Homo sapiens: one gene and its partner. The protein of the gene in region 2 purifies or fractionates together with the protein of the main gene of each other region. This does not show direct contact. Each region holds a gene or a part of one and is shown on either strand. Other genes may lie near its edges.

Region 1 (3,500 bases), on a different chromosome or scaffold from region 2:
GCAAATCTTGAAGAAGTTACTTGACTCATTGTTCTGAATGTCTTAATCAGTCACTTTAATTTTTTGAAAGAATTTCCTTGAAAGTGTTCTTAAATAAAAATAGGGATCTTCCTGTTAGTGAGTGTAAAATTACTCAGCAGTGATTCTTTGGTTTTGTGAAACTTAAGGGAAGACTAACTCTTCTTTCTCTATCCCTTCCTTCCATTCCCTCTGCAGTCCATCATCTTGGTTCAGGCCTTTGTGACAGTTCTTGCCTAGCCTCCCAAAAGATAGCTTTCCCCACTTCTCCTGCTTGTCAGTGTTTTCAACCACCTGCAGATGACTTCTTCAGGTCAGCAGTAGTTGTCACTTACCTCTTGGACCAACCTTTTGGGATTCCTTATTGCCTGATGAATTTAATGGATTTCTTACCATAGTATTCCAGGTCCTGATAATCTGCTCCCAACCTATAGCTTTCTAGTCTTCCTCTCCCTCATTTTATGCTCTGGGACAGTGAGCAAGTTAGTGTATACTGAGAAGAGAAATGATTCGGAATTTTTAGGTATAGAAGGACTTACAAAAAGTTTATTCTTGATGGAGAGTAGAAATTAGTGACCATTGTGGATTTGAGAGTGTTCATTGTTTTTGAATCACCGTTACCAGAAAGACAAAGAGTGGCGAGTAACTCAGTAGTCAAAGGGGAGGGAGTAACAGACTTGTGCATGTTGGAGATTGAGGTAATGTGAACATTCAGACATAGATGTTTGAGGAGAGTAGGGAGAAAGGAGTAGATGGAAAGTGTAGCTGGAATGCAAACTAGATATAATCTGGGTTTTATTACTCTCTTCATACTTACGAATAAGAAAGACTATTAAAAAAGAATGCCTAGGCCAAAAAGATTGTCACTAATACAAACAATAAGCTAAATGACTCTTACTGCAAGAAAAAAAGAAAAAGAAATTATAAGCTGAAAAGAAATTGGAATGAGGAAAACTATTGAAAATTTTCCATAAAATGACAGATAAGATTAGGAAAGTATGAGAAGGATCGTATACCCCCATCCCACAAAAAAGGAAGTTGCTGTCTTGGAACCAACTATAATTATGAGACCATTGATATACAGGGATGTTCTTGGTTTTCAGGATTTATGGTGGAAATAAATTAAGGACTCTCCTTATAAAATCTAGAGATAAGATGCAATATTTTGATAAAACAATATACCATGATACTGTTTTGGATTTTATCTTTTAAGACTGCTTGCAATGGAGCTATAATGACATCTTTTTGGTATATACAATAAGAAACTCTTGGACAGGATGAAACACATGTCAACCTTATATTGTATATATGCTGGAAGGGATTATTATAAGGTTCAAGTAGTTTCCATAGTAAAATTTTTCTTACTAATTCTACACGACTCCTTATTTTTCTCTTAGTAAACTTGAGGAATAATTGAATAGTGGGGGAACAGTTTCTGGAAGCGTTTATTCAATGAGATTCAAGACACGTATTCTGTAAGAAGCATCATAAAAACAAAATGCACAGTATATAGGTGGAGAATGAAACCATACTAAAAATTTAGTCAGGGCAACCTGACCAGACAATCTGCAAATAATACGTTCTGTACCCTGCAATTTTCAATGTTGAGTTTTCTCTTTTTTCTTTACTCACAAGAATCTCTGCAGCTGCTGTTTGGGGTCCTGGGAACACTAAATGCAAATGATCATTGAGACCCAGGAATGATAGTTTTAGTTCCCCAATTATGGTGTAGGCATTGCAAAGACCCTCTTCCATAAATGACACCCTTGTATTTTTTTGATTTAAGAGACCTGTCTCTGTTATCATTGGATTTAAGGTAAAACCTCTTCAGAGATCTGTGTTTAAAGCTATTTCATATGTAATATATATATTTTTTCTTTTGTCTTTTTAGCCGTGTGGTTTTGCCATGTTCTGTTCAGGAGGTGAGTTTTTCTTGCTTCTGCATCATTTTATTGGTATATGTACTGTACTTTGATATGTTACTCTAAACTCACATTTTCGTAGTATTGATTTACCTTTTCATTCCACCTTATGTGACAAAATTAATTATATGAATGATAATTGCAAAGAATTGCAAAATGAATTAAATGAATGATAATGAATTTCTTGCTACACTGCCTTGTTTTGGAAGAGTCTAAAGAATGTAGTTTAACCTCCTGTCTAGTGCAGGAATTCTTTCTCCAACATCCCAGAGAAATGAGGCTCCAGCCTCAACTTAAGTACTTTAAGGTTAAGTAGCTTGCTGCTTAGAGAAGCAGCCTACTTTACTGTTGGACATTTTAAACATTTGTGTTTGAACCAAAATCTGCTTTTCCTATAATGCTTGACTCTTGTTTACAGTTTATCCCATTTGAGCAATGGGAAATAAGCCTGTTCTGTCTTGTAGTGGTTAATCCTTCAGGTTTTCTGATGGCAGCTCTCCCCTCCAGCCAACCCCATCCCCCACAAGCACTTTTATTTCATCTTAGAAAGTCTCAAGGTTAAACATTCCCAGCACATTCACTTGGCTTAATACAGCATGATATGTGGACTTGCTACCAGCTGGTCCTGTTACTATATGTGTTGTAATTGTTGATCTGAACTGAAAACAGTATTCCAGACATGGTATGAACAGCACACAACTGTAAGAGCTTATTGTTTTCCTCAGTCTGGACATGATACAGAAATATATCACCTATTCAGAACTTGCATGTCCTGCAGTTATAGCCATGTGTATTGTAGACAAGAATGAAGATAAGAGCAGAAACAGCTTCTGAGAAATCAAGATATATATAGCAAAACCCATAAAACCCTCTAGGCTCTTCTGTAACTTGCACACAGTTCCCATTTGCTCAGTTATCTGGTTTTCCTAGAGCTGACAGTAGATTAGAAGCAGTGACTTGGAAGTGGGACAAAACAAACTGATAACCTAAGAAGTGACAGCTGACAGAAGACAGAAAGAAATGCAGGAAGTGAAAAAGAGTAGCTGTCTGGCACTGTTTAGTGTAGACTTGAACACAGTTGTTTATATCTCAGGAGGATTCACTGTATTAAAACACTCCAGAGAAGCTAGGCACCCTGTTCTCTATTTGCACAATTGATTGTTTGAAGTTGAATGTGGAAATTGACACTTGTTTCTGTTAGACTTTTTCTTTTGATTTCAGCTGGTTGAATCAGCTTGTCGAAATCTTTTTGAGTCTTGGTATTGTCACTGAAAATACTGTTCTCGGCTTTTTGTTATACTCCCCCCCCCACCTTTTTTTTTTTTTTTTTTTTGGAGATGGAGTCTTGCTCTATCGCCCAGGCTGGAGTACAGTATTGCGATCTCAGCTCTCTGCAACCTCCGCCTCCTGGGTTCAAGCAATTCTCCGTGCCTCAGCCTCCCTAGTAGCTGGGATTACAGGCACCCGCCACCGCACCTGGCTAATTTTTGTATATTTATTAGAGACCGGGTTTCACCATATTGGTCAGGCTGGTCTCGAACTCCTGACCTCAAGTGATCC
Region 2 (4,442 bases):
GCTTCCAAGTAGTAAAAAAAGGAACCCACAGAGACACCATGCACATCCCTCAGCTATCTCTGCAAGGGGCTGTGACCCTCTGCAGAGACGCCGACTATCAGTGCACTGGTGTGGTGCAGGCCAGCAGGTTGCCAGTGAAGCCTGCCAGGCTCAGCACAGGCAGCAGAGCCCTGGATCTCAGGGCCAGCCTGTGTGGCCACTACCATGCTTCTCTCCGTGGCTCTCTTTGGAACTTAAGAGACAAGGCCAGGAAATTGGGGTAGTTCAGTAGGATACTTTTCTTTCCAGTTGTTGATGACAAAAGGGAGATGATGCCTTCTGACCAACTTTCTTAATTAGGCACTCACCAGGCTATGTCACTAAGCAGAATGGGACATAAAACTTGCCCTACCGTACGGGTATTTGGTGTCCAGCTTATTCTCTGCTGTCCTTCTCCAAGGCAACACGTCATCACTGCACCCATTTGGCATCCCATTGTACCCAATCCCGACAATCTTGTTTTCTGAATTCACGATGCAGGCGCCGACCTAGAAGGAAACATGCCCAAAGGCTTGGTGCCTGCAACTGGCTGGTCTGCCGCTGTGGAAGCAGGGAATAAAACCAGGGGGACTGCAGAACTCAAAACAGACGCATAGCTGCTGCAGGTGCTGAGAGCTGTCGGTCTCCTTGCCTGGTTTTTTGTGGCAGCACCCACAAGCCAAGGAAAGTGCACCCCCAGTCCCAGAAGGGGCACAAGAGGCAGTTAACAATGGCATGTGACAATTTTCTGTCTCACAGGAAGAACTAAGCTTGTAGAAACGCAGCACAAAAGGCAGACCGACCCTGCACTTTTAAGTTGACAGGCGTCCACTGAGTCTCCCCTTTCTGCTCATGTGCAGTAATCTCTTTGCCTGTGAGTATCTAAGCATTCTCCCGTGAAATTCATTTACCTGGGAATTTGGATCTTTGCTTCTCTGTGCTGATAAGAAGGCCACAGCCATAAAATACTCTGGCCATTCCAAATAGTCGTCCCGTTTCTTGCAGGAAACTTCACTCATGTTGGGTCTAGAAGAAAAACATGACAAAACAGAAGTTGAGAGAAGCATTTTAGTAAGTCTGTTTTCCAGTTCAACCCAACCACACTGAACCTTTAAATCTCTAAACATGGGCAACTTCAGCTACATTTATCAATCAGAAATCACAGCACATGGGCCCTAAACAGTCTCTGGTCTTAAGTAAAAACTTAAGAAATTTCCTATTTCAGAAGTTTGAATTTGAAACCTATAGCTTCACGTTCCCAAATATTTCATCTATTTACTGCTTTCTCATAGGATTTTTTATGCCAGCCTACAAATTGTTGTGTCCTTTACCTGTCTCCCTTACAAAGCGGAGTCAGCACAGGAGGAGGGTGGAAAAAAGAAATATTTATTGATCATCTATAGATTCCAGACATTGTTAAAGTTTATACACATCATGTCACTCAAGCCTTACTCCTAGCTAAGGTAGACAGTGCCATCCCATCTTACACAGACTCAGAGAACTTAGGTAACTTAACCTAAACCACACAGGATTATCATCCATGCCAGACGGATTCAAAGAAAACATCTGAAGCCTTCCCAACTCTGATATTAACCAGATAATTTTTCCCTTCCCTTTCTCCTCAATAATCCAGATGGGACAGAAGTTATCAACTCCGAGTAATGAATTACATGAGAAGAAACTATGAAAAACGTCAAGTGCTACTCCTAAAGCAAGGTTTTTGGAACGTAGTTTACCAGGGGCAAGCAGAGACTGTCTACGGCAGGGAGAGCCCACGAAGGGGGTCCTAGGACTTCAGGGGAGTGGTCGCTTTCAAAAGGAATGAAACAAGGGCAAGGAAGGAAGACAACACAAAAACGGGGTGGGTACCACGGAGAAATCTTGAGAAAGGCGAGGAATGTGGTCTAAAGGAAGGCAAGCATCTCCCAAAACTTCTGCTTCAGGCTCCACACTTTATTTAGGCATCTGCTACAGTGCAGGGCGGCAGTGCCTAAGACAAGGATGCAGTGGAGAGTGGGTGCTGGGAACCACGGTCACCCACTGATTACGCTGCCCCACATCTGAGAGGCCTGGCAACCCCCCTAACAGGAAAAGACAGGTGCTGAATCAGCCTGGTTTCCCACCTGGCTTTAGGGCCAGCATCCATCATCGCTGTGGGGTGCTGGAGAAGTACCTACTAAATAGGAGGGAGGGGGAGCCATGGGGGGCGAGGGAAGAGCAGGAGAGGGAAGGGTCCTGTTAATCCCCTGGGCGCCTTCTCCTGGTGTGGCTGAACGCCCACTAGAGCCCTGTGAGGACTGAGGCCCAGCTGTAGAAACAGAGAGAACTGGAGCTCGAATACAACGATTCAGGAAGACACATCCGGTCACCGTCCCAGGCACACCCCACGCCGCTCGCAACCCCGTCAGCTCTGATCCAGGGCCTACACCCGGCATTCCCAACCCACACACGGGCGCAGGAAGGGATGTGGTGTTCAGACGCCCAGCACCACCTCCCGGGGCACTCCAAGGGGCCCGGCCTCGCACAGGCCGCGGCGCCCGCCGAGAAATCGACCCTGGAGTGACTGCGGGGACCCCGAGCGCCCCCACCCCGCCCGCATTCTCCGATCTAAAGGCTGAGCGCGGCCGAGGCGCCCCCAGCGTCCGCGGCCCCAGGCCCCCGCCCGGCAGCCAGCGCCCCGCGCCACGCGCTCGGGACGGTGCCACGCGGCGGTGGCTAGGGGCGCGCGGGCCGCGTACCCGCACGGCTGGCCCCCGCCCACCATCCGGTGCCGGCTCCGCGCGCAGGCCGGTGCTCGTCCCCGCCGCCGCCGTGCTCAGGGAAGGAAGTCGGGGGAGGAGGCGGGGCCGCCGCGGGGCCGGAAGGGGGCAGCGGCCCGGGCGCCGCGCGTTCGCAGGACGGCGGCTGGCCCCGGGGGCCCGAAGCCCTGAGGGGAGGGAGGGAGGGACGGCGGGGGCGGGTCGCACGCCGCAAAGGCGCTGCTCCGCGTCGCCGTACGCCTCCCGGTCCCCGTGACGCAGCCCGCGGTCCGGCCGGCGGTGTTCAGAGCCCGAGCACAAACTACTTCCCGGGTGCCAGACCGCCCCGAGGTCGCCCCGCTGCCCGGGTCACGCGTGGCGCTGGGTGGCCGCGAGTTGGGCGCTCCCGGGCCTGACTGCACGACCGTCGGGGGCTGCTTGGTTTGGTGGTGGTGGCGGTGGTGAGGTTTTCCCCACCATCCGTGTTCCATCAACTGCTTAGAGACACGGCTATGGAGATTGTGATTAAAAGACGACCCCAAGAATCTAGTGCCGTGAAACTGGCGGGGCGGGAGGTGGGGAGACCTGGTTTGGGTCTCTGGAGTGAGCCCGCTGTGTCGCAGCGTCCCCGTGGGGACCCTTGGCCGGTGGCTGGGTCACAGTTTCACACACTGGATGGGGCAGGGAACTGGGTCCGGCGGGGGCGCTGTGCCTCGAGGCTCAGTGCCTCGAAGCTAGATTTGCATTTGGCTGCGCCTGACAGGCTTTCAGTTTCTGCTCAAATTGTGCGGAAGGGCCTGAGGTGTTTGCTAAAGCCTGCCGCGCCCTGCTCGACCCGTATCACCGCACAGGCACCCCACCTGCATGTTACCTCCTGGTAATGCTCGCCCACTTATATAGTGCACATTTTGTTGCAGTTGTTTCAAAGATGAGAAAAACAGGGCAATAGGAAAGACCATCAGTGACATTTCTGGAGTCGTATGCCCCAAGCAACTTAATCTGGTTTTCATGAACTTCGTTACCCTGTGCAGACGTCTAGCCCCTTACAGTGGTTCTAGCACAGAGAATGACAGAAGAACCCCTTTCTGTTTCATTCATGGGACTTGAGGGGACTGTCAGCACTCCATAAATAACAGCTACTGTAATAATCGCCAGTTCTGATCTGCACATCCCAGATTTGAACTGCTATTCCAAACAAAAGCTTGTTAACTATATTAATTTAGCCTAACGGAGGAAGAATGATGAGAGTAAACAGTTGGTTCTATCTAATTTCTCACTACAGCAGACACATCATTCTTCATCTCATGGTCCAGCTTGTAGATTCAATAATTAAATTATGTACTGCTCTTGGTGGATGCCGGGAAAGCAAAAGGGAGAAATACTTCATCGTTAACTATAGATTTTTTTTTTTTTTTTTTTGCCTTGATAAGACTCAGGCTTGAAAGAGCCACATAGATTAAGATGATGATTTTTAATTTCAAGTTGACTTTACATGGCTGTCTTGTTGCCGCTAAAATGTGTCATATATCCCGAGCCCCTGGTTTCCCTCCTCCTCCCAAATCCACCGCTTGGTCTTTGTCACACTCATCTACAGTCTTTGGGTCTTCATAGATCCATTTCTCTTCTTACCAACCTACAACCCATACATCACCAATTGCTGCTGCTCCTTCAACCACAACATCATTA

What was found. The genes of interacting proteins can lie anywhere in the genome.
Region 1: the proteins of DCTD (region 2) and PITPNB fractionate together in Homo sapiens (co-fractionation; one large-scale study listed by BioGRID). This does not show direct contact.

What each region holds. Positions count from the first base shown.
Region 1 is NC_000022.11:27,912,757-27,916,256, reverse strand, and holds part of PITPNB (phosphatidylinositol transfer protein beta isoform), read left to right. Parts: intron 1-1,909; coding exon 1,910-1,940; intron 1,941-3,500. UniProt on the Homo sapiens protein: Catalyzes the transfer of phosphatidylinositol and phosphatidylcholine between membranes. Also catalyzes the transfer of sphingomyelin.
Region 2 is NC_000004.12:182,914,532-182,918,973, forward strand, and holds the start of DCTD (deoxycytidylate deaminase), read right to left. Parts: upstream 2,856-4,442; 5' UTR 2,783-2,855; coding exon of another isoform or gene 2,757-2,782; exon of another isoform or gene 2,168-2,756; coding exon of another isoform or gene 2,142-2,167; intron 2,009-2,141; exon of another isoform or gene 1,755-2,008; intron 1,358-1,754; exon of another isoform or gene 1,350-1,357; intron 1,045-1,349; coding exon of another isoform or gene 1,038-1,044; coding exon 930-1,037; intron 528-929; coding exon 392-527; intron 1-391. UniProt on the Homo sapiens protein: Catalyzes the deamination of dCMP to dUMP, providing the nucleoside monophosphate substrate for the thymidylate synthase/TYMS.